Homo sapiens: one gene and its partners. The protein of the gene in region 5 purifies or fractionates together with the protein of the main gene of each other region. This does not show direct contact. Each region holds a gene or a part of one and is shown on either strand. Other genes may lie near its edges.

What was found.
Region 1: the proteins of PCDHA12 (region 5) and NEK4 purify together in Homo sapiens (affinity purification with mass spectrometry; 2 studies listed by BioGRID and IntAct, with this or other methods). This does not show direct contact.
Region 2: the proteins of PCDHA12 (region 5) and EIF2AK3 purify together in Homo sapiens (affinity purification with mass spectrometry; 2 studies listed by BioGRID and IntAct, with this or other methods). This does not show direct contact.
Region 3: the proteins of PCDHA12 (region 5) and PAM16 purify together in Homo sapiens (affinity purification with mass spectrometry; 2 studies listed by BioGRID and IntAct, with this or other methods). This does not show direct contact.
Region 4: the proteins of PCDHA12 (region 5) and KLRG2 purify together in Homo sapiens (affinity purification with mass spectrometry; 2 studies listed by BioGRID and IntAct, with this or other methods). This does not show direct contact.
Region 6: the proteins of PCDHA12 (region 5) and ABCB6 purify together in Homo sapiens (affinity purification with mass spectrometry; one large-scale study listed by BioGRID and IntAct). This does not show direct contact.
Region 7: the proteins of PCDHA12 (region 5) and LONP2 purify together in Homo sapiens (affinity purification with mass spectrometry; 2 studies listed by BioGRID and IntAct, with this or other methods). This does not show direct contact.

The regions. Positions count from the first base shown.
Region 1 is NC_000003.12:52,746,941-52,750,440, reverse strand, and holds part of NEK4 (serine/threonine-protein kinase Nek4), read left to right. Parts: intron 1-611; coding exon 612-749; intron 750-3,500. UniProt on the Homo sapiens protein: Protein kinase that seems to act exclusively upon threonine residues. Required for normal entry into proliferative arrest after a limited number of cell divisions, also called replicative senescence.
Region 2 is NC_000002.12:88,620,965-88,624,464, forward strand, and holds part of EIF2AK3 (eukaryotic translation initiation factor 2-alpha kinase 3 isoform 1 precursor), read right to left. Parts: intron 1-3,500. UniProt on the Homo sapiens protein: Metabolic-stress sensing protein kinase that phosphorylates the alpha subunit of eukaryotic translation initiation factor 2 (EIF2S1/eIF-2-alpha) in response to various stress, such as unfolded protein response (UPR).
Region 3 is NC_000016.10:4,341,322-4,344,821, forward strand, and holds part of PAM16 (mitochondrial import inner membrane translocase subunit TIM16), read right to left. Parts: intron 1,971-3,500; coding exon 1,886-1,970; intron 184-1,885; coding exon 47-183; intron 1-46. Other genes in the region: CORO7-PAM16 protein, read right to left, coding at 47-183, 1,886-1,970. UniProt on the Homo sapiens protein: Regulates ATP-dependent protein translocation into the mitochondrial matrix. Inhibits DNAJC19 stimulation of HSPA9/Mortalin ATPase activity.
Region 4 is NC_000007.14:139,456,174-139,459,673, reverse strand, and holds part of KLRG2 (killer cell lectin-like receptor subfamily G member 2), read left to right. Parts: intron 1-3,500.
Region 5 is NC_000005.10:140,874,153-140,878,107, reverse strand, and holds the start of PCDHA12 (protocadherin alpha-12 isoform 1 precursor), read right to left. Parts: upstream 2,801-3,955; 5' UTR 2,636-2,800; coding exon 269-2,635; coding exon of another isoform or gene 257-268; exon of another isoform or gene 219-256; intron 1-218. UniProt on the Homo sapiens protein: Potential calcium-dependent cell-adhesion protein. May be involved in the establishment and maintenance of specific neuronal connections in the brain.
Region 6 is NC_000002.12:219,216,159-219,220,268, forward strand, and holds the start of ABCB6 (ATP-binding cassette sub-family B member 6), read right to left. Parts: upstream 2,801-4,110; 5' UTR 2,516-2,800; coding exon 1,967-2,515; intron 1,650-1,966; coding exon 1,512-1,649; intron 675-1,511; coding exon 494-674; intron 308-493; coding exon 206-307; intron 23-205; coding exon 1-22. UniProt on the Homo sapiens protein: ATP-dependent transporter that catalyzes the transport of a broad-spectrum of porphyrins from the cytoplasm to the extracellular space through the plasma membrane or into the vesicle lumen.
Region 7 is NC_000016.10:48,242,917-48,247,099, forward strand, and holds the start of LONP2 (lon protease homolog 2, peroxisomal), read left to right. Parts: upstream 1-1,383; 5' UTR 1,384-1,472; coding exon 1,473-1,705; intron 1,706-1,943; exon of another isoform or gene 1,944-2,087; intron 2,088-4,183. UniProt on the Homo sapiens protein: ATP-dependent serine protease that mediates the selective degradation of misfolded and unassembled polypeptides in the peroxisomal matrix.

The DNA of each region.
Region 1 (3,500 bases), on a different chromosome or scaffold from region 5:
AAGTACCTGGGATTGCAAGTGCATACCACCATGCCCAGCTGATTTTAGTATTTTTAGTAGAGATGGGGTTTCACCATGTTGGCCAGACTGGTCTCAAACTCCTGACCTCAAGTGAATCGCCTGCCTTGGCCTCCCAAAGTGCTGGGATTACAGGTGTGAGCCACCACACCCAGCCTATATATATTTTATTCATCCATTCATCAGTTGATGTACATTTGGGTTGTTTCTACTTTTTAGGTACTTTTGTTTTCTAAGAGGAAGGTTATATGTGGATAATGCGGCTATGAACACTTGCATACAAGTTTCTGTGTGGACATATATTTTCAGTTCTGTTGAGTATGTACCTAGGGGTAGAATTCCTGGGTCATATGGTAACTCTATGTATTAAACTTTTTGAGAAACTGCAAAATTGTTTTCCAAAACAACCATATAATTTTATTTCTGCCAGCAATATATGAGGGTTCCAGTTTATCTGCATCCATGCTAACACTCGTTACTGTTCATTGTTTTGAACATAGTCATCCTAGTAGGTATGAAGTGGTTGTGATTTGCATCTCCCTAATGACCAATGATGTTGAACATGTTTTTCTTTTTCTTTTTTTTTGAGACAGAGTCTTGCCCTGTCGCCCAAGCTGGAGTGCAGTGGCACAATCTTGGCTCACAGCAACCTCCGCCTCCTGGGTTCAAGTGATTCTCCAGCCTCAGCCTCCCGAGTAGCTGGGATTACAGGCGTGTGCCACCACGCCCAGGTAATTTTTGCAGTTTTTCTAGCAGAGATGGGGTTTTACCATGTTGGTCAGGCTGGTCACGAACTTCTGACCTCAAGTGATCAGCCTGCCTCGACCTCCCAAAGTGCTGGGATTACAGGTGTGAGCCACCGTGCCCAGCCTTGAGCATCTTTTTATATACTTTGGCCAGTATTTCTCCTTTGGAGAAATAATCTATTTGAATTCTTTATTCTAGATACCAGTTACTTATTAGATACAGCATTTGAAAATATTGTCTCCCGTCCAGGAATGGTGGCTCACGCCTGTAATCCCAGCACTTTGGGAGGCCGAGGCAGGAGGATCCCTTGAGGTCAGGAGTTCAAGACCAGCCTGGCCAACATGGTGAAACCCTGTTTCTACTAAAAATACAAAAATTAGCTGGGCATGGTGGCACGAGCCTGTAATTCCAGCTACTCAGGACGCTGAGGCAGGAGAATCGCTTGAACCTGGGAGGCAGAGGTTGTAGTGAGCTGAGATTGACCCAGTGCACTCCAGCCTGGGTGACAGAGCAAGACTCCATCTCAAAAAAACAAAAAAGGAAAATAAAATATTGTCTCCCATCCTCCCCTCCCCTCCCCTCTTCCCCTTCTGCAAGGCCTTGCTCTGTTGCTAAGGCTGGAGTGCAGTGATGTGATCTCAGCTCACTGCAGCCTCCACCTCCTAGGCTCAAGTGATCCTCCAATCTTACCCTCTCGAGTAGCTGGGACTACAGGCATACGCCAGCACGCCTGGCTAATTTTTTCTATTTTTTGTAGGGACAGGGTGTCCCTATGTTGTCTAGGCTGGTCTCAAACTCCTGGCTGGGCTCAAATCATCCTCCCACCTTGGCCTCCAAAGTGCTGTGATTACGGGTGTGAGCCACCTGTGCCTGGCTGAGCATCTAATTAATATGCATCAGACATAGTCCTAAGTACTTTTAGTGTATTCTTTCAGCTAATCCTGAAATAGTAATACAATATGGCTGTGGGTATTAGATCCATTTTTAAATGATGAAACTGGGCTCAGGGAAATTAAGTTTCTCACATAAGACTGCATCTAATGCCAAGCTCAATGGTCTTTTTATTGTGCTTTTTAGGGTACATCCAAATAACTGATGTTTACTTGGGAAATAAATTTGTATTAAATTGGAATTCATTTAAAACATTGGTTCATTTTCAGAATGGAAAACCTATGAAAAGTTATGAGGAGATTTTTAAAAATAATTGAATCAAACATCAGTAGTTTCAGATTAACCACAATTTAAGTGATTGAATTAAAACAATTATTTTTATTTGGAGGAAGAGAAAAAAATCAGAACATTTGGATAACTGATGTCGGCATTTTGTCTTTGCCTGTCAACACTGCAAATAAACATTCATTTTGAGAAAGACAACTTCTCATTTTCTTTTTAATTTATTAAAAAATTTTGGCCAGGCACAGTGGCTCACACCTGTAATTCCAGCACTTTGGGAGGCCGAGGCGGGCGGATCATGAGGTCAGGAGATCGAGACCATCCTGGCTAACACAGTGAAACGCCGTCTCTACTAAAAATACAAAAAAAAAAAAAATTAGCTGGGCGTGGTGGCGGCCACCTGTAGTCCCAGCTACTCGGGAGGCTGAGGCAGGAGAATGGCGTGAACCCAGGAGGAGGAGCTTGCAGTGAGCCGAGATCGCGCCATTGCACTCCAGCCTGGGCGACAGAGCGAGACTCTGTCTCAAAAAAAATTAAATAAAATAATAATTTTTTTTTTTGAGACACTCTTGCTGTGTCACCCAGGCTAGAGGACAGTGGCATGATCACAGCTCATGGTAGCCTTGACCTCCTGGACTCATACAATCCTCTTACCTCAGCCTCCTGGGTAGCTGTGACTACCTGGCATATCACTACATCTGACTTTTTTTTTTTTTTTAAATGGAGATGGAGGTCTCACTCTGTTGCTCAGACTGGTCTTGAACTCGTGGCCTCCAGTGGTCTTCCTGACTTGGCTTCCCAGAGTGTTGGGATTACAGGTGTGGGCTACCACACTCAGCTTCTTCTCATTTTCATTTACAATTTTAAAAGTAGGCATGGAGCGTTTGGCCATTTGGATGTTCAAAAGACTTCATTATTTTGTGTTTTTGTGTGTGTTTGCTTCATTTTATAATCATTATTTTTTAACTGTTGCATTATGATTTAATTTCATTGCACAAAAATTTGAAATTGCAACTGCTTTTCTTTTCTTTTCTTTTTTTTTTTTTTTGAGATGGAGTCTCACTCTGTTGCCCAGGCTGGAGTGCAGTGGTGCGATCTCAGCTTACTGCAGCCTCCCCCTCCCGGGTTCAAGCAATTCTTCTACCTCAGCCTTCTGAGTAGCTGGGATTACAGGTGCGTGCCACCATGCCCAGCTAATTTTTGTATTTTTGTAGAGACGGGGGTTTCACGATGTTGGCCAGGCTGGTCTCGAACTCCTGACCTTGTGATCTGCCTGCCTCAGCCTCCCAAAGTGCTGGGATTACAGGCACAAGCCACCATGCCTGGCCCGCTTCTTTTGTTTTCTAAGAGGAAGGTTATGTATACCTCTATATTCAATTCTGCATTGTTATATTTGAACCATATTGTGAACTTTACATTGTGATGGGTCATTTTAGAACTTCCATGTAACACTAAATTGCAATATGGAAACCAGTTTTTAAAACTGAGGAAAGTTTTCATGCTAAAAAACAAAAGCCACTTTTTATGGACAACTTACTTTGGATTACAATGTACCAGGTTGC
Region 2 (3,500 bases), on a different chromosome or scaffold from region 5:
CAATCACCACCAAAAAGGCTGAGAAGATGGGAAAAGATGTGATTTACCTAAGGTTATGCACCAAATACAAAATTTTGAACAGGAGCAGAAATTCAGGTTTTTAACTCATTATTCTGTTAACTGTAAGTTTGCATAAGTGGCAACTACTATATTACTAAAACGTGCAGCTTTTTATTCCTCTCAGAAATCTCATAGATGTCGTTCATCCTGTAATTGCTCTGATTATGTCCTCAATCCAGGAGAAATGACTTTATGCCACAATGAATACGCAATAAAAAAAGAAAAACTGTGCTGACTTAAGTTACCCAGAACACCTGCCTATTTACAGTTAAGTTTATCAAATTCTGATAAGTGTATGCTAAATTTCTTCATAAAATCATTTTAAAGGAACTTTTATTTCCTGTGGAAGTTTCCGATGTGAAAGAAGACAAGCAGGTGATAGGAGAACATTGTATGGATTAAATAGTTTCTACATTAACAACTGCTTATTTTAAAATTTCAAATATCCTTTCTGGGGGTTGGGGAGAGGGCGTTATTTCACAAAACTATAAATGTGATTTGGTTGAACCTGTTTTTTTGGCGTAGCTGAGAATCCTTTGCCCAAACTTGTGCCCTCACTAAAGGAGGCATATGTTCTTGTTTAGAAACAAAGTAGTACTGATTAGACTATACTTCCTGGTCCTCACCTACTAAGTAAATCTTCAAGTCAAACCTCCTTTACTTAAACATATGACAAGACTAGCCATGCCCCAAATCATAACAAATATATCAAAAATTACCAACTATACTTTATAACTTTGGCATATCAGCTAGACCTTAAAGACATACAATCTAAGTTTTCAGTGGTACAGGTTTAACATAAGCGTAACAGATATCCTTTTCCTGTTACATTAAAACATTTTTGAAAGTACCTTTTCTACTTTATTCTATAATTTTTTTTTTTTTTTTTTGAGGCAGAGTCTCACTCTGTCACCCAGGCTGGAGTGCAGTGGCATGATCTTGGTTCACAGCAAACTCTGCATCCCGGGTTCAATTGATTATCCTGCCTCAGCCTCCTGAGTAGCTGGGACTACAGACGTGTGCCACCATGCCTGGCTAATTTTTGTATTTTTAGTAGAGACAGGGTTTCACAATGTTGGCCAGGCTGGTCTTGAACTCCTGACCTCAGGTGATCCGCCTGCCTTGGCCTCCCAAAGTGCTGTGATTACAGGCGTGAGCCACCACGCCCGGCCCTATGAAAGACTTTTAATCAAAATGGTCATTTACAAATAGAATGGAATTAAACACACAAATTTATCTCCTCCCCTCACATTTAGCTCTGCAACTTACAAGTTTTCTCCTTTGTATTTTAAAACAATTTGTAATAAAAATGTATAAGAAGTTCCCCTCTTACAAAAAAGGAGAAAAGCAAATGGAGTTATCAGGCAATGTTTAGGGAGTAAAGAGACACGCTGAAGCTACAGCTCACAGCAACTGATAAAGACAGGTCCTCTCTGCAATCTGGAAGATGCCTATGAATGCAGGGACCTGAGATCAGATAAAAAGCAATCTCCCATCCCTGTCCACATAGTCTAAGCACAGTCCTGGCATCAATTAAGCTAAAGACAATTGCAGACACAAAGGATAGTTCATTACTTGCCTGAAGTATATTTATTTTGGCTTATTACTTGCTTTGAAAGTTCTGTGTAAATTCTTCCTTAAAGGTGACTGTTAGTTAACTTTAAAAGTCTGGAGTTGGGTGAGTGAATAGGAATAGGACTATATGACTGAGCTTCCTTTCAACATGGTATTCTGATATGCTACTATTCAAGGGTCCTAGTAGTTAAAAAAACAAACAAAAAAATGATTATAAATCTGAAAGTCTGAGGAAGACTAGATTTCTGTACCTTTGTTTCACATCAGATCACTTTGTAAAACGACAGAGGAAAAAAAGAGAAATTATATCATCTTATATTTGCAAATATTTTCATGTTATCTCATTTAATAAAAAAATCAGTTTGCAGATGCACAAATTGAAGAAGCACCAGAGATTAATGTCAAATTTAGAAATACTTTTGTTAGAGAGGAATTAGAGCCAGAGGAAAAAGGAACATGTACTTTGCAAATTAGTGATAGTTAAGATAAAACTAGTTCTTTAGAACTTCTGAGATTGTCAGAATGTCTTCCCAACCCATCCCAAGAACCCCAAGTAACACTTTGCAATTTGCTATTTGTGTTGAAGTCAGAAGACTGGTAATTCACAAAATTACATAAACATATGTAAAATCTAACAGTGAGGTGATGAGACTTTCTTCCCAACTTTCTGCAATGACCATCCCACTTAAATATCAACTAATGTAATGTTTAGCAGAAGAACATGGACAACGAGATTGGTACCAGAAAAACAAGTTTATTTTAGCTAACTTTTAAAGAAAATAAATAGCTTATTCACTCATTCACATGCTTGATATGCAGAGTAAGCACTTAGAATGAAACTTGAAAATTCCATCAAGAGAAAAGTATCAATGAACTGGTGAATCTCGGATTGCTTCTTGAGTATCAAAAGACAACATGCAAAAATAAAGATAATTCCACACCTCCTCCTTTTTAAAAGTTTTGCCAGTACTGCAGTTCTTCACAGCTGTTCATAGTAAACGCTTGGTTAATTCAAATCTGTTCCCCTAATACTCCTTGAAACAAACAGAATTACCGGTCTATTATTACTGAACTAATTAATATTCTCTGGGTTTTTATCTTTTTTTAAGAGCATTTAGAAAAAACTTTTATAAACTGCGTATTTATCTCCTGTTGACTATCAACTTATTCAAGGTTTCTCAAACATTCCACACTATCTTAAGTCCACACTACAAGGCAGACCCCAAAACTGGGCTCTATCTCTTCCTAGGCAATTCTGTTTGGTGATCATGTATGCTCTTCAAGCCAAAATTCCTGTTTTCACTGCAATTTATGAGAAAGAAATGATCCTCCTGTTTGCTAAGTGGATCTTCTCTAACTACCTTCACCTCATCACCTGTTCCTTTCATTTTCCTTTTCTTTTTTTTTTTGAGACGGAGTTTCGCTCTTGTTGCCCAGGCTGGAGTGCAGTGTCACGATCTCAGCTCACTGCAACCTCCGCCTCCCAGGTTCAAGTGATTCTCCTGCCTCAGCCTCCCGAGTAGCTCGGATTACAGGCACCCGCCACCATGCCTGGCTAATTTTTTGTATTTTTAGTAGAGATGGGGTTTCATCATGTTGGCCAGGCCGGTCTCAAACTCCTGACCTCAGGTGATCCACCCGCCTTGGCCTCCCAAAGTGCTGGGATAACAGGCTGAGCCAATGCGCCCAGCCCCTTTCATTTTCATTCTATCTACACAGGCTCCCTCTTTTCAGTACATAAGTAAGTTCGGAGGTTCCTTCTCCTAAAAATTACCTCATCAGTGAGGAAAGGAGGGATTGGGGCAGAAGGGCCTGAATCTTTAACCTCTTGCAATTTGAGTATTGTCTCTGCTGCTTCATTTAAA
Region 3 (3,500 bases), on a different chromosome or scaffold from region 5:
TGGCAGCCTCTCCCTCTCAAACTTTGGGGTGGCCCAGTGGCCTCACCTTCTGGACCTCCTCAGGGCTCAGCTTGGACACGTTGAGAATCTGCTGTGCCTCCTGGAGGCTGAGGCCGGAGAGGTTGGAAGCGGCTGCAGACCGGTGTCCAGCGCGTCCTCGGGCATCAGCTGCGGCCCGGCTGGCTGTGTGGACATGTGGGTGATCGCTCAGTCCTCAGCAGCCCACACTTCACCCTGGGCCTTCCGAGTTGGTGGCTCACCCCTGCCACCAGCACAGGATGAGAGACACAGGGACAGGTGGCTAGGAGCTGCCTCTTCTCCAGGAGTGGTTTCCTTTTTAGGGGGTAGAGGCTGGGAAAGTGAGGACAGACGTGCCTCACTGGAGGGTAAGGGCAGGATCTGACCGCTAATCCTGGCTCCTGGTCCCCAACCTAGACCATGAGATGACCCTGTCCCCCAACCCCCATATCCCAGGGGAACAGCAAATTGGGGAGCTTTAGGCTACGATGGAGACTGTATAGTGGGGCTGCGGGCATGAGAGGGCTCTGCAGGGGCCCAGCTGCCCACCTGTCACCTAGACCACCAAAGCCACTGCCTTGGGTGACCTCTCCCCTTTCAGTGACCCCAGAACCTAGAATCAGGAGCTGCTAAACTTTTCCTAAAGGCTCAGAGAGTAGCTATTTTAGGCTTTGCGGGCTAATGAGCCTACACTGGAACCATTCAACTCTGCCTTGAAAGCAGCCTGTCGGCCGGGCACAGTGGCTCACGCCTGTAATCCCAGCACTTTGGGAGGCCAAGGAGGGCAGATCACGAGGTCAAGAGATCGAGACCATCCTGGCCAAAATGATGAAAACCTGTAAAATACAAAATTACTAAAAATACAAAAATCAGCTGGGTGTGGTGGCACATGCCTGTAGTCCCAGCTACTGGAGAGGCTGAGGCAGGAGCATTGCTTGAACCCGGGAGGCAGAGGTTGCAGTGAGCCAAGATCGCACCATTGCACTCCAGCCTGGGCAACACAGTGAGACTCCGTCTCAAAAGAAAACAAAAGGGCTGGGTGCGGTGGCTCACGCCTGTAATCCCAGTACTTCAGGAGGCCGAGGTGGGCATATCACGTGAGGTTGGGAGTTCAAGACCAGCCTGACCAACACGGAGAAACCCCGTCTCTACTAAAAATACAAAATTAGCCGGGCATGGTGGCGCATGCCTGTAGTCCCAGCTACTCAGGAGGCTGAGGCAGAAGAATTGCTTGAACCCGGGAGGCAGAGGTTGCAGTGAGCCAAGATCGCACTATTGCACTCCAGCCTGGGCAACAAGAGCGAAAACTCCGTCTCAAAAAAAAAAGATTTATTTACAAAACCAGGGCCGGGCGCTGTGGCTCACACCTGTAATCCCAGCACTTTGAGGCAGGCGGATCACCTGAAGTCAGGCGTTCCAGACCAGCATGGCCAACATAGTGAAACCCCGTCTCTACTAAAAATACAAAAATTAGCCTGGTATGGTGTCGGGTGCTTGTATTCCCAGCTACTCAGGAGGCTGAGGGAGGAGAATCACTTGAACCAGGAGGCAGAGGTTGCAGTGAGCCAAGATTGCCCCACTGCATTCCAGCCTGGGCGACAGAGTGAGACTCCATCTCCAAAAAAAGAAAAAACAAGTTTACAAAATCAGGTATCCAGATGGGCCAGTGTGCCAGCTCCTGCCCTGGATGCTCTTGCTAACCAGGTACCACTGAAGAATGCCCCGGTCTGGCATCACCCCCCACCATGGGAAGTGCCTCAGGCCACGCACACTTCAGAACCGCCAGGCCTGAGGTGCCCATGGCTACGGGGAAAATCTGACCTGGAGAGGAACTCCCAGCCCACAGGGGAGACGGACCCATGCTTACCTGCAAACTCCTGCCGCAAGGCCCGTGCAAAGGCCCTGCCCACCACCTGCACGCCCATCACAATGATCTGGGCCAGGTACTTGGCCTGTGGGCAAAGCAGGCACCCGGTTAGCAGGCCACTCCCTGTGGGCCCACAGAGATGGGCCCTGGAAACGGCTGCCGAGGGGCAAGGCTCCCGGAGACCCGAGGTCATGAAGCACAGAGCTGCAGCCCCAGGCCAACCCCTCCAAAGCACCCTGAATGAAAGCTTCCATGGTGGGTGGCTTAGTTACTCACTGGACAGGCAGGCAGGCGGGTGAACTTGACCGAGCTCCCAGAGGCAGACTGGCCCCACCTCATCCTTCAGGAAAGGCGTAGAGGAGCAAGGCAAAGTGGCTGCAACCACCGGCTTCAGGAAGAAACACTGTGGTCTGGGAGCCAGAACACAGGGACAGCCCTGGACCTGGCAGTAACTCACTCTCGACCCTGGGGCCGACCATCACTCTTCCTGAGTTTCTGAGATCATCAGGCCCAACCTTTACTTTACCAACGGGGAAACAGATCTGTCCTAATTCTCCCAAGTCCGAAGACTTTAAGTCCATTCCATTCAATAAAACAAACTTACTATGCAAACCTGTTTCCATCTTCAAGGAGCTAAAAGCCCACTAGGAGGGTATTTAAACACACTATGGACCAAATCATGAGGGAGAGTCAGGCTCGTTCATTTGTGCAGCCATTGGTTCACCCATTCATTCAAACATCTGCTGAGAGTCTACTCTGCTCAGCACTTGAGCACAAAGCTACACAGAACCTGGTCCCTGCCCCGAGTCAGAGCACACTGCTGGCCTGGCAGGGAACCCCACTGTCACACACCAGGCTGAACATGCCGGAACACTGCACGTGTGATTCCATGCCCCGCAGAGGCCCTGGGGACTCACTAAGATGTGAGCGGAAGCAACAGAGTCGAGGGAAAACTCAAGACTGAGATGGGATTCGGTGAGAGGAGGGGGTTCTGTGTGAGAGGAGGGCGTTCCGTGAGAGGAGGGGGTTCCGTGAGAGGAGGGGGTTCCGTGAGAGGAGGGGGTTCTGTGAGAGGAGGGGGTTCTGTGTGAGAGGAGGGGGTTCTGTGAGAGGAGGGGGTTCCGTGAGAGGAGGGGGTTCTGTGTGAGAAGAGGGGGTTCTGTGTGAGAGGAGGGGGTTCTGTGTGAGAGGAGGGGGTTCTGTGAGAGGAGGGGACTGTGTGACAGGAGGGGGTTCTCTGAGAGGAGGGGACTGTGTGAGAGGAGGGGGTTCTGTGAGAGGAGGGGGTTCTGTGAGAGGAGGGGGTTCTGTGAGAGAAGGGGACTGTGTGAGAGGAGGGGGTTCCGTGAGAGGAGGGGGTTCTGTGAGAGGAGGGGGTTCCGTGAGAGGAGGGGATTGTGTGAGGGGGGGTTCTGTGAGAGGAGGGGGTTCCGTGAGAGGAGGGGGTTCCGTGAGAGGAGGGGGTTCTGTGAGAGGAGGGGGTTCCGTGAGAGAAGGGGGTTCCGTGAGAGGAGGGGGTTCCGTGAGAGGAGGGGGTTCTGTGAGAGGAGGGGGTTCCGTGAGAGGAGGGGGTTCTGTGAGAGGAGGGGATTGTGTGAGAGGAGGGGATTGTGTG
Region 4 (3,500 bases), on a different chromosome or scaffold from region 5:
TATGCTGTGAATGGGGGAATATGCCAGGGCACCAGTAGCCTGTGAGGGCAAGAGGAGCTCAGTAGGGATCAGTTTCTGCTCAGCGCCTGGGCTGGGCCCTGAGGTGTTGGCGTTGAGATGGGAATGGGCTGTGCAAAGAAAGCACCCCAGGCTCCTGTACCAAACGACTCAGACTGGTTGTATCTGCAAATTGAAGGCCTGTAGGAATGTAGGTGGGACCAAAGGTGGTCTCTAGAGTGCCTAGAGTTAGGGCCAGGAGCCAAGCAGGGCGGGGATCATATTGTTGCAGGGACATAGTTCATCCCATTACTTACTTATGGAATCCCATCGCTTAAGACTGATGAACATAGCATTTTGTCCTGAGACAGACAGATTGAGCACAGCAAATGCCAACAGGAAGCCAGTAAAACGGGCCTCACATCAGACAGGTTCACCTCAGATGAGCTTAGAACTCCTTGTTGCCAATGGGGGGAGGTGGGTTTAACTATCCAAATTGGAAACAGAACCTGAGATAAAGAATTTAACAAAAAAATGCATACAGCATCAATCATTTGAAACATAAGTAAATCTGCAGAAAACATATCATAGTCTGGGTAAACCCCTTCCCTGCAAAAAGACCAACGCTAAGATTCAAGATCTAGGCAGTTAAAATCTGGAATATAATGATTGTGGAACTCTGGAATTTTCCTGAGTTCTGGACAAGGACCGGAAGCTCCTGCAGGTGCTGAGGCAGGGTGGGGAGGACAGGACACACACGCAGAAGCAGCGCGCACAAACCCCAGGAACGCACCAGGGCCAGGGTGCCCAGAGGTACAGGATAGACGTGGCTCATCTTCCCAGAAGCCTGTTTTGCTCAGGATTAGTGAAAAGTAGGAAGTTGTAAGTGCTCACCATTAGTTTAATAACAACTTTGCTTTGCAGAGTGGAGGAGGGAGGAAGCTACCTTAACAGCACACACTGAACTCGAGCCCGATGCTAATTTCAAAAAGATTAAACCATTGAATACATTTACATCCTAGGATTAAGAAAAGTAATTTGAAACATTTTAATATTAAAACAGACATGGATGAAGATAGAGAGTAGAATGGCTGTTGCCAGTGCAGCGGGGGATGGGGAGTTGTTTAATGAGGACAGCTTCAGTTTGGGGAGGTGAAAAAGTTCAGGAGATGGATGGTGATGATGGTTTTACAACAATGTGGATATACTTCATGCCCTTGAACTGTACACTTATCATGGTTAAAATGGTAAATTTTATGTCATTAAACTTTTTCTTTCTTTCTTTCTTTTTTTTTTTGAGACAGGATCTCTTGCTCTCTCACCCAGGCTGGAGTGCAGTGGTGCAATCATGGCTCAGTGCAGCCTCGACCTCCCGGGGTCAAGCCATCCTTCGGCCTCAGCCTCCTGAGTAGCTGGGAGTACAGGAGCGTGCCACCACACCTGGTTAATATTTGTATTTTTTGTAGAGACAGGGTCTCACTATGTTACCCAGGCTGGTCTCAAACTCCTGAGCTTGAGTGATCTGCCCTCCTCAGCCTCCCACAGTTCTAAGACCACAGCTGTGAGCAGCCATGCCTGGCCGTGAATCTTTTATCACAATTTTTAAAAAAGAAATGTATGAAGGCATAGGAAACAATTTTCTATAATTTTAAGACGTAAAATATGAGATTTTCAGTCCATTCTGCTCAGGATCACATTCCCTCTCCCCATATTAGTGGAAAAGTTGGAGAATCCACAGTTAAGGAGGCCTCAGGATCTTTTGCACAGAGCAGTCCTTTTAGCCATAAATTACTTAGTAGTTCCCAGAGTTTATTTATAACTCTGAACAATGCCTTCCCTACACCACCATTTTTGCTAACAATGAGATCAGGAGTCTCAAACGCAAGGAAAAGAAGAATGGAATGGAGTGGGTGGGTCTAGGCGGGGCTGGGGCTCGGGGGAGGCCTTCAGCTCCCGTCACCAGGAGGCCCAGAGGGGAAGGGTGAGAGAGGCAGATAGCTTGGGGCTCTGACAGAAGGACAGGGTCCTCTTGAGGTTGCTGTAAGCATCAAAGGGGCTCATGTGTGTAGGAGGCAGGTCACAGGCTTTGCCCATCACATGTCAGACGCGAGAGGACATGGGATGAGTGTGTACTAGGTGGCCGTGGCTTTATATGTTAGTATCTCAAGCCTCATCACAAGCATCTTCGTTTTACAGACGACCACACAGCGGCTCTGAAAGGTTGGGTAACTTGTCTAAGGTCATGTGGCTCACAAGTCATGGAGCCAGAATTTGCATATGGGGTAGCCTGGCTCCATCTCAGCCCCGGAAGAGGCACTGAGCCCTGGTGTGCCTTCCCAAACAGGCAGCTGAGTGCTCCCAGGAAGACGGTGTTGGGCCGCTCAGCCCTCTGACTCACACCTCAGAGCAGCCTGGGGCCCTCCCATCCTCTCCAAGTTTCCCTGCCCAGCCCCACCCTGGGCCCCAGTGTGTCCCCGAAGCACCAGCCAAGGAACAGCTGCCCAGTGTACATTCTCTGTTCCGTCCACTCACCACTCTCCATTTTCCTATGCACTCTGGTCTTTAGGATTCAAGAAGGGTAAGATTAGCAACCTTCAGCCTGGGAAGTTGCCCCTGACTTCTCTCTGGGCTGTTAACTGACTGGTGCTAACCTTGAGGGGCAGAAGATGGGTTTTCCGTGACACTTCTGGGATACACAGTGGCCTGATGGCCTGGTCTCACTGTGGCTCTGCTGATTTTTGGCAGTGAGCGCGGGGAGGCAGTTTCACTGAGTTGACCTACTGTGTACTGGGTTATCATAGTGCGATGCTGAGTAAGACAAGCTCCTGGCCCGCACCAGGTTCACCAACTAATACAGGAAAGTGACAAGGAGGCAAGCCATTAGAAGGCAGCACATGAGTGGTGGCACGCACCAGCAGTCCCAGCTACTTCGGAGGCTGAGGTGGGAGCATCGCTTGAGCCCAGAGGTTCAAGGCCAGCCTGGACAACGTAGTGAGATCCTGTCTCTTAAAAAATAAAAAAGAGAGGCTGGGTGCAGTGGCTTATACCTGTAATCCTAGCACTTTGGGAGGCCGAGGTGGGTGAATCATCTGAGGTCAGGAGTTCAAGACCAGCCTGGCCAACATGGTGAAACCCCATCTCTACTAAATTGGGCGTCATGGCAGGTGCCTGTAATCCCAGCTACTTGGGAGGCTGAGACAGGAGAATTCCTTGAACACGGGAGACGGTGGTTGCAGTAAGCCGAGATTGTGCCACTGCACTCCAGCCTAGGTGGCTGAGCAAGACTCCGTCTCAAAAATAAAAATTAAAAAAATAAAAATAAAAAAGAGACAGCTCTATTCTGTGAAAGTTGTGGAAACCAAGGGGAGGGAGGAGCACCTATTTCACCTTGGAGAGGGTCAGCCCAGTGTCCGTTAAAAAAGCCACCTTTAAATCAGTTCTGAAGGATGGAGGAGGTGGCAGCAACAGGACAATCATCACTCTAATTCCCAGGGCTTGTCTTT
Region 5 (3,955 bases):
TTTTCAAGGTTCATCAGTCATATAAAATATTATAGAAAAAGAAAAATATTAAGTGTGGTGCTCCATGGCCTCCATTGTACCTACATATTTCCTTCATTAATGTTAGACAAATACATAAAAGTTCAAAATGAGTAAGAATGACCAAGAAAGATGAGACATTCGATAGTTTAAAGGATAGAATCATAAAGAAAAATGAGAGAATGTAGTTATAACCTAAACGGAAGTTCTTCAAGGAAACAAATATATCTAAATAATATTAATAACTTACTTCACTGGGAGGATTTAAACAATCTTCTCGAGACAGCTGAAGGCTTGGGCTGAAGGCCATGAGGTCCGTCTTGGGCGGGCTCTCTGCAGAGCACACCCTCTGCCTCCTCTGCTGCGAGTAAGACCAACTCCCCACGGCGCTGGAGCACACCAGCGTGGGCTTGCCCGGCGCGCACCGGCTCACGGTGGGCGGCGCTGAGCAACGCAGCGCAGTGTACAGCAGCAGCGTGAGCACCAGCAGGCTGGACACCGCACAGATGGCGATGATGAGGTACACGTTAATATCCACCAGAGCCGCTTCGGGATCCACAGCGCCCACTGAGGCCCGCGACGACGTCTTTGGGGCCTGGCCGTTCTCCACCAGCGACACCAGCACCGTGGCCGTGGACGTCAGCGCGGGCTCACCGTGGTCCTTCACCAGCACCAGCAGGCGGTGGCGCGGAGCGTCCGCCTCATCCAGGATGCGTGTCGTGCTGATCTCGCCAGTGTACAGCCCCACGTGGAACGGGATGTGCGCGCCGACCGCCGCCGGTTGCAACTCGTAGGACAGCCAAGCGTTATAGCCGGAGTCAGCGTCCACCGCGCGCACTTTCGCCACCACGTGGCCCGCACCCACCGACCGCGGTACCAACTCGCTAACTGCGCCTCCTGCGCTGCCAGCCGGAGTCGCCAGCAGTGCCGGCGCGTTGTCGTTCTCGTCCAGCACGAACACCTGCAGCGTCACGTTGCTGCCCAGAGGCGGCACGCCGGCGTCGCGCGCGCTCACCTGGAACTGCAGCAGCTCCAGCTCCTCGTGGTCTAGCGGCTGCAGCGCGTACACCTTGCCGCTCTCCGCGTGCACCGACACGTAGCTCGACAGTGCGTGCTCGCCCACCCGCCGCTCCACCAGCGAGTAGGACACCAGCGCGTTCTTCTGCGCGTCCGCGTCCCATGCCGACACCGTGAAGATGTGGCAGCCCGGCGGGTTGTTCTCCTTCACGAACACTGTGTACTCGGGCTGCGCGAACGCAGGCGCATTGTCGTTCACGTCGGCCACCTCCACGGACACTCTAGCCGTGGCCCACAGCGAAGGCGAGCCCCCATCCCGCGCAGTCACCACCAGCTCATAGGCCGACACGCTCTCGCGGTCCAGGGCGCTGTCCAGCACCAACGAGTAGTAATTCTTGTAGGTGGACACCAGCTTGAAGGGAACATGAGGTGTCAGTGAGCAGATGACCTGTCCATTGGCTCCAGAGTCACGATCCGACACGCTAATCAGGGCAATGACGGTACCCACCTGAGCATCCTCTTGCACAGGGAGCGACAGTGAAGTAACCATTACTTCAGGGACATTGTCATTCACGTCCAGAACTTCCACCAGGACCATGCTGTGACCTGCCATGGAAGGAATCCCTTTATCAATGGCGTTAACCTGAATTTCATAGGCATTATTCTCTTCAAAATCCAGTTCACCATAAATTCTAATTTCACCTGTGTCTGGATTTATTGAAAACATACATTTCTCACTCACTGGCAAAATCATTTTGATCCCATAGGAAATTTCTCCATTAAGTCCTTCGTCTGGATCGGAAGCATTTAGTTGGATCACTCTTGTGTCGTTTTGGACATTTTCAGACAACACTACTTTATAGCTGGGCTTATCAAACGCCGGACCATTGTCATTCACATCCAGGACGGTTATTTGAATCTGGACAGACCCTGTTAGTTCTGGTTTACCGCCATCGATTACCATCAGCAATAAATTGAGTTTTGGCGTTTGCTCTCTGTCCAATAACTTCCGAAGAACTAATTCAGGCAATATACTTTTATCTTTTTTTGTTTTTATTTTAAGCTCAAAATTCTCATTTAGACTTAACGCATAGGTCAAAAGAGAGTTTACGCCGATATCCGCATCAGAAGCGCCCTCTAGAGGAAAATGAGAGTCCAGAGGCGCAGATTCAGAAACAGGTACCTTTTGTTCCCTTTCTCTGAACACCGGCGGGTTGTCGTTAATGTCCTTCACCTCCACGTCCACATGGAAAACCTGCAGCGGCCTGTCCACGATCACCTCCAGGTGGATACTGCACTCCGCGCTCCGCCCGCACAGCTTCTCGCGGTCGATCCGAGAATTCACAAACAAAATGCCATTCTGCAGATTTACCTCCAGAAGGTCCCCGTGTCTTTTGGACGCCACCCGGAACAGGCGCGGCACCAGCTCCGCCAGCTCCAGCCCCAGGTCCTGAGCGATGCGGCCCACGAAGGTGCCGTGTTTGGCCTCCTCGTAGACGGAGTAGTGGAGCTGGCCGCTCCCCACCTCCCAGGCTGCAAGGAGCAGAAGCGAGAGCAGCAGACGCTGGGATCCCGGGCCTCTTGGTCCGATAATCACCATTGCAGAAAATGAGGGCCTCTGAGTTGGGACAATCAGTTTTAAGGGATCGCTTGCCTGAGGTATTTTATGAGCAGTCACCCTTTTCTGTAAGTACATATTTAGTAAATTTTTTCCAGCATCACAGTCATTATGGAGTCGATCCTATTCCGTGAATGATTGGAATGTGGGTGCGGAGAAAAAAATTTTCCTGTTTCACCTTCTGAGTGTAGAGCGACATCATGTGACTGATTATGTAAGTACAAGAAAGATCCTGAGGTTCTTTTCGGTTTAGCCACTTCCTGGGTCACTCTTAATTCTAATGTTTCGACTTTGGGTTATTTTTCACGGATCATTTATAAATGCGGGTTTAGTTAATATACATGATATTAGTAACAAAACATCAACAATTTTATTACGCTGTAGCTTAAAAATGTTTTCTGCTTCAAAGTAGAAATCTTTCAAATACAGTAGGCCAGAACCTACACTTTATCATGGAAAATGATATACAGAATAATATACAGCACCCCTCCCCTTATATAGCTTACAATTCCGCTGTTTCAATAACTTTTAACCTTCACAAGCACTCCATCGTAAGATTTTAGAGAAAGTTAGGAATTTGTATTTAACAAAGGATAAGAAACTAAAATATGTCTAATACCAAACAATATTTCATTTATATAAATTGTCTTATTCATAAATCTGATGAAAGTTAGAATTCATCATAAATATGGAGAGCGTTATTGTTTGGTTCCTTGATGCTTGAATGTGATAACTTTTCACATAACTGCTCTCATTTCCATAACATGTTAAAACAAATCTCAGGAATAGATTCTGGAAAGTTTTACTCTAGCAAAAGTAAAGCACTTTAATGTAAAATGTTTAGTTGAAGCCTCCAAATTTCACACTATCCCAAAGCAACAATGGAGCACTAAAATGCGAAAGATCTCTTAAAGGGTTTTGGAGCCTAATCTCATTGACTAAAGTCAAGAGAATGTGAACTTGATATCAACCTTTTGCTTTTTCTCTAAATCTTCCCCTACAGGTCATTTAGTAGTTAGGACATGCTTCTCTTCAGAAAATCAGAATGGTGACTGTTATGCAAGGGGGCATCAAAAGACCTTTCATGAGTTTATTCATTAATTCAAGATCAGCTTTAAGAGAAAAAAACAGATAAGATCCTACAACTCATTGTGAACAAGTACACATAGATTTTGTAAGTCTATTAATACTCAAGTCAAAATCTTTAAACCAATAATTTGTTGCCATTCATTCCTACTGCATATAATAATAAAGGCAACTGAAATATGACACCTTTACAACACCAGGAAAGAGTAACCAAGA
Region 6 (4,110 bases), on a different chromosome or scaffold from region 5:
GTGCGCAGGTTGCTCACGAAGCCTGCAGGGAGCCGGGGGACGCCTCAGTAGGGCCTGGGAGCTGAGGGACGTCAGCCCAGCACCAGGATGTGAAAGGTCTGAGAGTACATGGGGGCTGGGGAGGAATGCTGGGAGAGGCGGATGCTGAGGGAATGCCTGTGGGAGGGACCTATACCTAGCAGGGTGAGGGCGGAGTCTCTCATACCTGTACTGCCAGTGCCACCCCCCTGGAGGAACTTGAGGAAGACGTAACTGGTAACAGTCCAGGCCAGAGAGTTCCAAGGTGCCTTCTCAGTCAGCAAGTTCACTGTGGAGGAAACGAGTCAGAACCCACTTATGGCGCCCAGGACTCTCTTCAGGCAAAATGGCCCCAGGTACCAGCCACAGTCTCTTTCTGACCACCCAGCTCTGTCCCACCTCCCTAGGTAAGGACCATCCCAGCCACCAGGCTGATGAAGGACCAGCACACTGAGCTGGTGCTCCTCCTGCTCACCAATGTTCCTATAGAATATAGGCACCAACACATTGAGTGCCCGTTCCAAACCCATGAGCCCCAGGCAGATGAGCACCACCAGCTGCAGAGCTGGACTCCCTCGAGGCCACAGGTAGCCACTCAGGAGGCGGAGCTTCCTGCCAAAATCTCGCCAGGTAGACTGTTGGGCTGCTGACCGAACCTAGGATGGTGAAACACGTAGGAAGGGAGCTCAGAAATCAAGTAAGTGCACTAGCCAGAAACCCTTCAGGGAAAAACCTATGGGGTTACAGCTCCCAGGTATCTCAGACCCACAAGTGATCCTTGATGGGGTCAGAAAAACTAAGTTGCAAACTGAGATTTGGAAAAGAAGCATTTCATTTTGGGGGAAGGAATGATGACAGGGAATGAAATGAAGAGACTCCAGGATTCAGAAACTGAGGTGGGGTCTGGTGCAGTGGCTCATGCCTGTAATCCCAGCACTTTGGGAGTCCGAGGCAGGTGGGTCACCTGAGGTCAGGAGTTCAAGACTAGCCTGGCCAACATGGTGAAACCCCATCTCCACTAAAAATACAAAAATTAGCCGGGTACACACCTGTAATCCCAGCTACTTGGGAGGCTGAGGCACGAGAATTGTTTGAACCCAGGAGGCAGAGGGTGCAGTGAGCTGAGATCGCGCCACTACACTCCAGCCTGGGTGACGGAGCAAGATTCCGTCTTAAAAACAAAAAGAGGCCAGGCGCAGTGGCTCACGCCTGTAATCCTAGCACTTTGGGAGGCTGAGGCAGGCGGATCACGAGGTCAAGAGATCGAGACCATCCTGGCCAATGCTGTGAAACCCTGTCTCTACTAAAAATACAAAACTTAGCTGGGTGTGGTGTCATGCACCTGTAGTCCCAGCTACTCAGGAGGCTGAGGCAGGAGAATCGCTTGAACCCGGGAGGTGGAGGTTGCAGTGAGCTGAGATCACGCCACTGCACTCCAGCCTGGTGACAGAGCAAGACTCCGTCTCCAAAAAAAAAAAGAAACTGAGGTGTACCTGGCTCCTTTCCACATCTTGGTCCTCTTCATGAACCTGCAATGTATAGGACTGGGGACGAAGTCCAGGGGCCCAGAGACCCAGGACAAACAGCCCTCCAGAGACCACATACCGCAGCACCCACAGGCTAAACTGAACCTAGAATGAAATATAAGTGGAGAGAGTATCATTGAGGATAAAATTTCATTGTATTACTACTTATAATAGGGCCGGGGACTGGTGTCATGAACACATTCAGCACTTACAGGCTTAAAAAAAAAAAAAAAAGCAAAACCACAGTGACTCAGCAAAGACACACCCCACCAGCTGGCTATCAGCTCCCGGCAGGACTCAGCCCCTCCCTTCTCCCTTTGCTTAGAGGCATCCTAAAGCCTGGAAGCAGTGTGACTGGACATGCAGTGCTTTCTCCCAAGCCCGGCCAGCAGAGGCTTCCCCCTTCCCACAGAGTCCCTCACCTGCTGGCCCAAGTCTGCCCTTGCCCACCACCACTGTGGGCTGTTCCAAGACACCAGGGCCAAGTTCTCAGCTGCAAACGCCACAGTCCAGAGGAGCAGGAGACCAGGGCTGTGCCTGAACTTGATCCAGATGCCCATTGCCAGACGCTGCCGTGCCTGGCTCCGCTCCACGACAAGCAGCCACAGGCCACAGGCGCCGGCCAGACTCTCCAGCACGGAGGCCAGAAGTAGATAGCTTGGCAGTGGGGCCCCCCGGGCAGTGCCCACCCGGCCAGCCAGGCCGGCCAGGGGCAGCGCCGCCTGAAGTGTGGCCAGAAGCAGCTGCAGCACGTAGGGAGAGATGCGAGGGCCGGCCCCCCAAGACAGCGAATCAGCACCAGCGGGCCGCTCCCGGCGTCTGCAGGGAAGAGCCAGCACCAAGGCCAGAGTCCCCAGAGCCATCCGCGTCGAGGGCACGAGCGTGAAGAAGAAGCAGGGACTCAGGCCATCCTGCATCCAGGCCGGACCCACGGGCCCTTCGGCCTCGCAGTAGTTGCCCACAGTCACCATGGCAATGCGTGGACGCCGGCCGAGGCTGCGGGCACTGCGGGACCGGAGGCCGGGACTGGTCACTCGGAGAGGGGCGCGGACATCCGGGTGCCTTGGCTCACGTAGCCGCTGGGCGCCAAGCTGCGGGGGTCCCGGGAAGGGACGCACGTGGACCAGGCCTCACCGCCCACTCCCCTAGCGCACGCGCCGCCGCCACGCACTCACGCAGGGCACGTACGCCGTCTCAGCACGGCCCCGCTGGCTCTGGGCCCGGGACCCTCCTGCCAACTGCAGGCCCACGGGAATGCTCGGTGTTGGACTCGCACCGCGCTCCACGGCTGTAGCCCCGCCCACAGCCCCTACCCACGGCTCCCATTGGCCAAATGTCTCCGAGGGGGGAGCGGGGGGAATGGTGCAGGCAACGAATGCAAATTAGAGAAGCAGAGCCGGCTTGGTCACGTGCCCAGGGCGGGAAATCTGACGACCAGGCCGAGCTGGAAACCTCCACGGAATCGTGGCTCGGGGCTGGAAACAGACCTCACGGAATCCTGGCTCGGGGCAGGACACAGACCTCCACGGAACTGTGGGTCGGAAGCTGCCCTTCCGCCAGCCGCCTTGCTCAGCGTATCTGAGCGACGGCCTAAACATACTTTCTTCTAGACCCCGGCAGAGTCCCCATCCCATTTCTCTTGTTCCCAGGATTCTAGCCGCGCGAGACAACAAGAAGTCTGGTCAAACTCCCTTTTTATTAAGGGTTATCAAGCTGTACACGGTCCCTACCCTGCTCCGCTCCGAGTTCGGGCAGCGCAATTCACCACTCTCCCAAAGCCGGACCACAGCTGGGTGAGGGGTGGGACAGAGAGTAGGAGCAGTCCCAGCATGCAGTGCAGCAGCCCAAAGCCTCGGGCGAGGCATCGCCCTTCATCCCCCTTCAGGGCACAGCGAGATGCGGGCCAGAGCTCTTTTGCTGGGACGCACACAGCCAAGGTCACCCTCCAGCCCGGTCTGTCCCATGTGCAGGTGATGGGGGGTACGATAAGCAGCAATGAGGGCCCAGGAAGACCTCAGTCTCCTGGGGGCCCATCCTAAAAGATGGCAAGGGCAGCAAAGTATTTCCATCCTGCTCCTACAATTTAGAAACCTTCTTTTTTAGTGTCAAAATATAGCGTTGAGGGGAGCTGGACGCTAGGGTCTTCACCCTAACGCAAAGCAAAAGCCGAACGGAACGGGAGCAAGCGAACAGAACAGGAGCAAGCAGCACACACAGGCCAGTGATGTGCAAGAAGCGGAGAGAGGTGAGCCGGCTGCAGCACTGGGCGAGAACTGCGGGTGAGGTAAGGGCCACAGCCTGACCTGCTCATCTATTGAGGGGGCTAGGGAAGGTTGCAGGGGTTGAGGGTCCAGGCCCAACCTCCCCACTCCACAGTTGGCACAGGTTCTCCCTGCTTGGCAGCTTCTATCGTGGGCAGCCCTCTGGGGACTTGCAGGGGTAGGTGTAAAGGTGGCAGTACTGGGGCTGGGCTGGGGGCCAGTTTCTAGCACCACACTCTGAGCCAAGGGGGTCCTGGGGATGAGGCTAGAGTCCCGTGTGCCCTCGGTTCCTAGGCCCCAAATTC
Region 7 (4,183 bases), on a different chromosome or scaffold from region 5:
GGAAGGGATACCATTAGGAGATATACCTAATGTAAATGACGAGTTAGTGAGTGCAGCAAACCAACATGGCACATGTATACATATGTAACAAACCTGTACGTTGTGCACATGTACCCTAGAACTTAAACTATAATAAAAAATAAAATTAAATTAAAAACAGAAAAAAAATAAAAGTATCAAGGTTGTAAAAAAAAAAAAAATTGGACGGGCGCAGTGGCTCAGGCCTGTAATCCCAGCACTTTTGGGAGGCCAAGGCGGGCAGATCACGAGGTCAGGAGATTGAGACCATCCTGGCTAACATGGCGAAACCCCGTCTCTACTAAAAATACAAAAAATTAGCCGGGCGTGGTTGCGGGTGCCTGTAGTCCCCAGCTACTCGGGAGGCTGAAGCAGGAGAATGGCATGAACCCGGGAGGCGGAGCTTGCAGTGAGCCGAGATCTCGCCACTACACTCCAGCCTGGGTGACAGAGCGAGACTCCGTCTCAAAAAAAAAAAAAAAAAAAAAAAATTGAGGACTTGCCACAGATTAGAGAACACCTAGGAGATTTCATAACAAAACACCTAGGAGATTTCACAACAGGATCCTGGATATTGGATCCTGGACCAGATCCAATGAAGGACATTAGTGGGAAAACTGGCAAAATTTGGGTAAGGCCTATAGGTTAAACGATAATAATGTTAATTTCCTGGTTTTGATCATTGAACTATGATTATGTAAGATGATAACAGACGAAACTGGGTGAAAGGTATATAGGAACTCTGCTGTAGTTTTGTACATCTAAAATCAATTCGGGCCGGGCACGTTGGCTCACGCCTGTAATCCCAGCACTTTGGGAGGCCGAGGTGGACGGATCGCTTGAGGTCAGGAGTTAAAGACCAGCCTGGCCAACATGGTGAAATCCCCTCCCTACTAAAAATACAACAATTAGCTGGGTGTGGTGGCGGGCATCTGTAATCCCAGCTACTCGGGAGGCTGAGGCAGGAGAATCGCTTGAACCCGGGAGGCAGAGGCTGCAAGCCGTGGGTATCGCGCCATTGCACTCCAGCCTCCGCGACAGAGCGAGAATCTGTCTCAGAATAAATAAATAAATAAATAAATAAATAATTAGTTCGAATCAAAAGTTAAAAACACTTCAAGTATATGTAAAAAATCGAAGAAAACGTTAAAAACACTTCAAGTATATACAATTCAAATAAGATCATCCTTCCAAATATACTCTGTAAGTGAGGCGAAGGTCGCTGCACGCTTGAGTGCACGTCTTTCCGCATAGGTAGGACGCTCAAGTCTTACCGGGAGGCTCTCCTAGAGAGCAGCGCGAAGCCATGGCTTTTGGGCCCGGGGACGGACCGTAGCGCGTAGCCGGAAGCGGAGGCGTGGAGGCGGGTCTGAGGTTTGGTGACTGCGGGGCAGGCCGGGGGCAGCTGTCTGTCTGGCTCTTTTTGACAGCCCCCAGTGCGAAAGGCTGCCAGCATGTCATCAGTGAGCCCCATCCAGATCCCCAGTCGCCTCCCGCTGCTGCTCACCCACGAGGGCGTCCTGCTGCCCGGCTCCACCATGCGCACCAGCGTGGACTCGGCCCGCAACCTGCAGCTGGTGCGGAGCCGCCTTCTGAAGGGCACGTCGCTGCAAAGCACCATCCTGGGCGTCATCCCCAACACGCCTGACCCCGCCAGCGACGCGCAGGACCTGCCGCCGCTGCACAGGTAGGCCTGGCTGCCCCCGCGGCGGCGGCGGGCGGCGCGGCCTCCTCCGGGGACCTGGGCCCAGGCCACGGCCTGCCTTGAGCGCGAGGCTCAGTTCGGGGCGGCCTTCGCGGCTCGGTTCCGCCTCTCTGGTGCTATCACTTGCAAAATGGGGATGTCAGATACCTGCCCCATGACCATGAATGAGATCGTTCATGAAGTAGTGCCTGACACCTGGTGAAACTACGCAGTTCCCTACCGTTCTGGATAATTTAATTTGAATCCTCTTCCCCCTCTCCGCAATTCCTCGCCCTCGGTCTTCAGCCTCCTAGGCCAGTGCTTTTAACTTTCCAGGCCCTTTCTTTCTCCCCGGTGATCTCTGCCTTCACTTGCCTTCGCTTTTCACCTTTCTCCCCACTGCCCTTTACTCCTATCCGCCTCCCCTTTTCTGTCACCCATCATTTTTGTCCGCTGAGGCATTCTCTGCTCCGTGAGTTTTAACTTTTCCTGTTTCATTCCTAAACTGCACTATTTGTGGGTGCCTTTCTTCTATACTCCCTGCCACCCTTCTCCTTCTCCCCCTAATCCTTCTGTTTCCCTTTGTAAAGGGCCTTTACTGCTCACATTTTCGCTGGTCCCCCTTTCTGGAACTTTCCTAGCTTCTCACCTCTGCTCCTTCACTCATAACATTTCTTAGGCCCCAGGCTTACTACTATATTGCCCAGTACCCTCGCCCTATTGGTGTGACTTTGGGTGAGAGCTTTAACCTCTATTTCTTTTATTCTGCAATTTGGAAACTGACAGCATCCATCTCTTAGGCAAGTTATGAAGAATAAATTGAATAATGTGTATATTCCACTTTGCACCATGCATGATGGATGACTTTGCTGTCCAGTACTGTGTAGTGCATGTGGCTCGTCAAATTGAGATGATAGAATTGCCAGTTGTCCTGGTTTGCTGCGATTGTCTGTTTTAGCATTGAAAGTCCTATGTTTTAGCCCCTCCGTCCCAGGGAAACCAGGAGGTTGGTCACCCTAAATGTGCTGTAAGTGTACAATACACGCCAGATTTTGAAAAAACTTTTTGATTAATACATTTTATATGGATTAAATGTTGGAAAGGTAATATTTTGAGTACTTGGGGTTAATAAAATGTTAAGATTTCTGCTGTTTTTACTTTATAATGTGGCCACTAAAATTTTATATGTGGTCCACATTATATTTTTATTGGACAATGCTGGTATATCGTATGCTCTCAACAAGTATCTTCAAACTCACCTGCCAAGCACCCGCCTCCTATTCCTAACTCTACTGGAGGTGTTGTGTTTTCAGTTTAGAGCTTCTCCTTTCCTGGCAGTTATCCCTTATTTTTAAATTAGGGGTTCCTGACTCTGAATGGATTTCCGGAGGGTTGGACATGTCTTATTTTTCCTCAAAATCTTGTGACTATGTACATTTTTTTAGGAGAATCCTTTGCTTTCTTCAGATTCTCAAAGGAGACTGGTACCTCCCCCCACCCCCGTTAAAAGAAAGCAAAACAAAGCAACAAAGACCAACAAACCTTCCACAGCAGCCCAGTATTCATTTATATTGTAAAAGCCTTGATTTTCTCAAGCATGGAAAATATTTTGGCTCCCATCTGACCTGCTTTGGTTATTGCCTGAGTGGAATTGGTCACATTCCAAGTTTCAGTACTCTTTGATAAATTGTATTGGATTCTAGTTTCCCAACATACGACTCTGCTCCTTCTGCTTACTTTTCCCAAATTATTTTGCCTTCTGTGCCCAGGCACACTTAGTTCCCTGTCTAGGCAAGAGTGGTCATTATTAGACTTCATTTTCTTTCTACTGTGCATATGTATTGATTAGCCATGGGCACATTGTGAACTTGAAAAGTCGATTTAGTCACATTTTAAGTTTCACTATTTGTTGGTATTATTCTGGCAAGATTTTGGAAGGTTTTTATTATTTATTCATTTGTGTATTTTTTGAGACAGAGTCTCATTCTGTCTCCTCCGCTGAAGTGCAGTGGCGTGATCGTAGCCCACCGCAACCTTGATTGAACTCCTGGGCTCAAGTGATCGTCCTGCCTCAGCTTCTGGAGTGGCTGGGACTATAGGCGTGCACCACTACACCCAGCTAATTTTTAAATTTTTTGTAGAAATGGGGTCTCACTATGTTGCTTAGGCTGGTCTCAAACTCCTGGACTCAAGCTATCCCCTGCTTTGGCCTCTGGAGTAGCTGGGACTATAGGCAAGCGCCACCATACCCTTCAGGTTTTTAATTTATTTTATGAAAATCCCTCCAAAGCAACAATCCTCAATTCTCCTGCTTGAAAGTAATCACTAATAATCAGGTACTGTGTGATCTGATCCTTGATGTTCATATTATTGCCTTTAACTGAGTAGCAATGTTAAAATTTAATCATTTAAATTAGAAAACATATATTGAAAAGTCTTCATAGAAGTCCGGCATTATAAGAACTCATCAGACCATCTAGT